Regions from separate parts of the Homo sapiens genome. Here region 2 is linked to region 1. Evidence: fine-mapped expression QTL. A gene starts in region 1. The other region holds a variant in brackets. All regions are shown on one strand. Distances are between the middles of the regions.

Region 1 (2,500 bases):
TTCACTAGAGAGGGTCTGATCACCCTCAGCTCTTATAATTAGTGGTCAGGAAAACCACCTTAAGTCAAACCTAACTGTTCCAGTATAAGAGATGATTTAAACTAGAATTGTCTCTGGGAACAATTTTAGCTGGTGTACCGTTTTCGCCTTCCTATAACATCTTTTTGTCTTGTTTTTTTTTTTTAAACTTTTAAGTTCAGGGGTACAAGTGCAGGTTTGTTATATAGGTAAACTTGTGTCACGGGTGTTTGTTGTACAGGCTATTTTGTCACCCAGGTATTAAGCCTAGTACCCATTAGTTATTTTTCCTGATCCTCGCCCTCCTCCCACCCTCCACCCTCCGAAAGGCCCCAGTGTGTGTTGTCCCCCTCTTTTGTGTCCATGTGTTCTCATCATTTAGCTCCCACTTATAAGTGAGAACGTGCGGTATTTGGTTTTCTGTTCCTTTGTTAGTTTGCTTAAGGATAAGGGCCTCCAGCTCCATCATGTCCCTACAAAGGACATGATCTCGTTCTTTTATGGCCCCACTTTTTATCCTTTTAATTTAAACGGATTCTTTGCTCCCCCTGAAGATGGAGGCCACCTCCTTTGCAAGGACTTCTATCTCTCCCCCTTTGAGGCCACGACATAATTCTCCGCATTTTTAGGTACTTAACAGTAAATCACTTGGTTCACTTGGTTCTCCTGCCTGCCTAGGAAAGGTCAGGAGATGGTCCAGCGCCATGTCTAGCACTGTTAATTCTTTCAGTGCTTTCGTTTTGCTTGGGCCTCTCGGGGAGGGCGCGGAAAAGAGCGCAAGCCAGGGTCTAGGACCACACAAGTGAATTCGTGTTGCTCCCTCAGCCCTGAAAAGTGGCTCTCTCCCCATCAGCATTATACTTGCACAGTGGTTTTGTTTTTAGGTGCATCTACCTCATCACATGGCTACCGGCCACACAGCAACTAACAGCACCGAGGAAACACAACAGCCTGTTTACCTTCAGCCCCGCCACTAACCCTTGGCCAAAGGGAAAGGGGCAGGACATCCTCCCGCTCTGAGCCACCTCCGGAAGTGACGTCGGAGTGTCAACATGCAAGATGGCGGCCCATCACCGGCAGAACACAGCAGGGCGGAGGAAAGTGCAGGTATGGAAGCCCGGTTCCTCGGTCTTCCGGACGCGGCCGGCAGCTCCGGGCCCACTCCAGCTAGAAGGTGCCCGGCGCCACGACCAGCTGGGGTAGCGGCATGGGGCGAACGGGGCGGGGCGCGGCCGGCCACGAGGGGTGGGGCCGCGGCGCTAACGGCTTGAGGAAGGGGCGGGGGTCGGCTTGCTTGGCCCTTGGGGCCCAGGCCCGGGACCCTCGTGGGCGGCATTCTGAGCCCGGGATTGCTTGTCGCCGCTCTTCTGTAGGAGTGGACTTGCGGGGTCGGGATAGGCTCGTTCCCCGCCCACTTGCCTCCCCCTTGCCCTGTCTTTCTTCGAAGCGCTCTGCCCTCGCTGCGTCGGAGCCGAGGCCTCCAGGGGTTTCCCAGGGGGGTGGGCGTTGGAGGAGTGAGCGGCTTGTGCGGGGGCGTGGCGAGGCGGCGGAGCGCCAACGGCCCTGCGGGGTTTCTGCTGAGGATTCCGCACTTGGGAGCCCCCAGCCCTCTCTTATGTGGGAGCTGTCCCCTGGGTAGGTTTAAGTGACATAAGAATGTGCGTGGGGAAATTATAATTTTAATTGTTTTGGTATTTAAGTTCCTCTTCACCATTTCTTCATCTTAAGTGTGCATCGCTGAATCTGTCTTTATTGTTTGTGTAATTTATTGTCCATGTGGTAAAGAGTTGTCTAATCTTACCGTGTGTGTCTTGTGCCTTATGCCTTTGTGAATTCACTTTTGTTTGCGGTTACGCTTAAGAGTTACTGCCACTTCGGGGAACATCACACACCGGGGCCTGTCGGGGGCTGGGGGCGCTAGGGGAGGGATAGCATTAGGAGAAATACCTAATGTAAATGACGAGTTGATGGGTACAGCAAACCAGCATGGCACACGTATACCTATGTAACAAACCTGCACGTTGTGCACATATATCCTAGAACTTAAAGTATAATAATAATATTAAAAAATAGTTATTGCCACTTAATATTTTCAGTGATGCAGGGAATAAAAGCCCTCTTACAGGTGTTTGCCTGCAGGTATATTGTATGTGGTAGTGGCAGTTTGGTGCATTTATTCATTAAACATTTACCTAGCACTTAGGGTGGCCCCCAAAGGGGAAAAGGGATTGAAAGGGTGTAGAAATAATTAACACCTAGGCTTTCTTTATAAAACACAGCATTATATGGAGTTCTGCGGGTTGAAATCAAGTGTCAGATAAAGGTAGTTAGATGAAGGGGTCCTTCAGTAAGGTAATCCCAGCAGAAGGTGGTAGGCCATAAAGTCTTCTGATTAGTTCACATCTTGGTTTTATTGATCTCACTGATCAGTACAGTGTCTTAAGCACTCACTGGATGTTTGTTGAAATGAGTGAAATTAATA
Region 2 (3,023 bases), 34 kb after region 1:
ATGACTTAGCACTTTAGTCAAATAGTACAAATAAATGAAGGTTTAGAGACTTGTTTGGAGAATATATTCAAATGGGATGCCACTAAGTTTTTTCTTTTGATAGATGTTAACTATTACTTTGGATGAAAGTGATTGTTTTGCTGCCTGGGTTTCTGCAAAAGATGCTGGTTTCAGCAGCCCTGATGGGTCAGATCCAAAATGTGAGTTTAAGTGTCCTTCATTTTTTTCCTCCCTTCTAAAGAGAAGATGAATATGAGCTGTTTTTTGCTAAGTACTTATCTTTGTAAAAGTTCTCTATATTTTGTTGACTATGTCCTAAAAATGTGGTATGTACAAATACCTAATGTATACAAATCATTTTAGTAATTTCATATGGAAATAGCCGTTTAAAGAATCTGATTCTCGGCCAGGCGCAGTGGCTCACACCTGTAATCTCAGCACTTTGGGAGGCCGAGGCGGGTGGATCACGAGGTCAGGGGATCGAGACCATCCTGGCTAACACGGTGAAACCCCGTCTCTACTAAAAATACAAAAAATTAGCCGGGCGTGGTGGCGGGTGCCTGTAGTCCCAGCTATTCGGGAGGCTGAGGCAGGAGAATGGCGTGAACCCGGGAGGCGGAGCTTGCAGTGAGCCGAGATTGCACCACTGCGCTCCAGCCTGGGTGACAGAGCGAGACTCTATCTCAAAAAAAAAAAAAATCTGATTCTCATGTTTGTTTTTAAATAATAGCTGTATCTGAACAACCAAGTAGAATATGTCTTTGCTCCATAGCATCATTGCTTTAAACATTCTAAGATAAAATTTTAGCAGAATTGGCAAAATGACTAAAGTCTTTATTTTAGACATCATTCGCATTGGGTTAAGAATGTAACATCAGAATATGTACAAACTTACAATTTTTATTCTATTTTTAGGTTAAAGCCAAGTAACTCGCTTTTCCATTTTATCTCTTTTTAATTAACTTTTTTGCAGTGAATTTAGGAGGACTTTTACTCCAAGCACTCCTGGAATATTGGCCTAGAACACATGTGAATCCAATGGATGAAGAGGAAAATGAAGTAAACCATGGTTAGTTTTTATATTCAGATAGTTGCATAAAAAGTTAGAGGTACTTACTTAAAAGGTACTTACTAAAAGGTACTTACTTAAACCGTTAGCTAAAATATTTGTGGTGTACTCAGTTTATTGTCCTCTCTTCCATATCTCAAAGTAGGAACATCCATCCAGTCTTAACTGAGACTGAGATTCCAAAAGAGCAGACCACCTTATGATATGGCTTTTAGTGAGACTGCTCAAGATAAATAAAATACT[C/CTATATT]TATATTCAGATGACTTTTGTCTTAAAATGAGGCACCTTAACAGACTTATTTCCAAAATATTCTTCAAGGTACCTCTGATCTTTTGGATTAACCTCCAAAGCTAGGTAGTTAGCTGCATCAGAAAGCCAGGTTTGTCATTGCATAGTCACTCTTCATGTTGGGCTGAAATGTTGGTATTTCCTAGTCTCATGGCCTACCTGATTTTGACTCTGTTTCAAAAAAAAATTCAAATTCCAACTCAGAAGTGACAGGGCATATGCTCAAGCATGTGTAAAGAATTAATGTCACTGAGGACATCTGAAACGTGTGTGTGCCATAGGCAGTGGCAGTAACGTTCCCTGAGCAGCAGAGGAGAACATGTTTTGAATATATGCATTTGGCTCAGTTTGATCAAAGGAAGGGGAAACAAGAACTTAGAATTTCACATCCTCATGTGTAACCTACAGCTGGTTGAGGAATCATTGAGTCCCATCGACTGAGGCTTACTCTGCTGAAGATTCTCTGCTGGCCACCAGGAGTGAGCAACAATGGCGAGTACCTCCTGCCAGGGACTTTGTTCTGGCTGTCAGATTCACCCATAATGATATGTGGAATTTAAATCTCTCACATGAGGATGACATGCTTCCTTGAAAACCAGTCTTCTGATGTTCCTGTCAGAGAGAGGGTGCTGTTGCCCCACCCATGGTGGCTTTTCTTTTACATCACCTGACACACTTTGATCCCTGTCAGAATTGTACAGTGGACTTTGAGCTAAAGAAACTGATGGAAAAATCTTTCCACAGAGGGTCAAGAAAGCTAGGTTCTGGGGTGGGCTCTGCTGCTTAACAGCTATGTTGCTGTGGGCAAATCATTTCCAGTTAGATGGGATACTCTCAGCCACCCAAATAAGCAATAAGGATTAAGTTATCAAAACAGTGGTATAGTCATGCACCCTTTGGATCTAGGCTTTGGGTGAGGAGTATAAGGAAGACATCACCAGAAATCACGTCATCCTTAACATCAGACTGCATGGGAAAGGTAGGGCAGGGCATGGCTACTTCCTCATCCAGAGCTCAGACCACAGCACCTGCAGCATACTCAGTGGACACTCTGGAGTTGTTCAGATGGTGCTTGGTGAGCAGCTCTACTATTCAGGGGCCCTTACCAAGTTTCAGGTGGGGGTACTAAAGACACATGGGTATGGTCCCTGTCCTTCAGGAGCTGATGTTCTGGTATGGCAGAGAGTTACTTATGGAAAGCATTCTGAGATAGAAGGGTGCTAGGAGAGAGGTTCCACAAATGCTATAGGATTTCAGGGGGTCAGATGCTTCCAGTTTGATGAGGAAAGTGTCATGAATGAATTGGCACTTGAGTTGGTATCACCCACCTGTGCTGGGTCAAAAGTTTATGAAGAAAGCAGAATGGAGCTAGGCGTGATGGCTCACACCTGTAATCCCAGTGCTTTGGGAGGCCTCTAATATTTGTTGACAGTGATTTTGACGTCTGTGCTTGTTGGGTCATTTACTACTTGATGGCTTATGTTTAGGCTGCCCTGCCCAGCAGCCTTGAACCCAGGAGTTTGAAACCATGCTGGGCGATATAGCAAGATCCTGTCCCTACAAGAAATGTAAACAATTAGCCAGTTGTGGTGGTGTGTGCCTATAGTTCCAGCTACTCAGGAGGCTGAGGTGGGAGGATCACTTGAGCCAGGGGAGGTTGAGGCCGCAATGA

Alleles and levels. Positions count from the first base shown, and alleles are read on the strand shown. Sizes are in standard deviations (SD) of each study's normalised expression.
In carriers of allele CTATATT in region 2, the expression in monocytes of the gene that starts at base 1,068 in region 1 tends to be higher than with C alone (large effect, 0.82 SD a copy in Kim-Hellmuth 2017).

Evidence for each region. PIP is the estimated chance that this variant, and not a neighbour inherited with it, causes the effect. A credible set is the group of variants that fine-mapping cannot tell apart.
Region 2: its variant is the best candidate, but not a certain one, in a credible set for the expression of WDR48 in monocytes (Kim-Hellmuth 2017, PIP 0.61).

Annotation. Positions count from the first base shown.
Region 1 is chr3:39,050,949-39,053,448 of GRCh38, forward strand. It overlaps WDR48 (WD repeat domain 48), which reads left to right and starts at 1,068. Exons shown (of 19, transcript NM_020839.4): 1 at 1,068-1,125. The coding sequence starts at 1,078. SCN11A (sodium voltage-gated channel alpha subunit 11) reads right to left here and starts at 996. Exons shown (of 30, transcript NM_001349253.2): 1 at 913-996. RefSeq lists enhancers at 229-1,101, 772-861, 872-921, 942-1,131 and a silencer at 1,172-1,271.
Region 2 is chr3:39,084,542-39,087,564 of GRCh38, forward strand. It overlaps WDR48 (WD repeat domain 48), which reads left to right. Exons shown (of 19, transcript NM_020839.4): 13 at 104-200; 14 at 974-1,069. Among named protein-coding and RNA genes, the nearest start is that of GORASP1, 22 kb to the right of the region's middle. RefSeq lists an enhancer at 1,850-1,909. The variant C/CTATATT (reference allele first, on the strand shown) is at 1,313.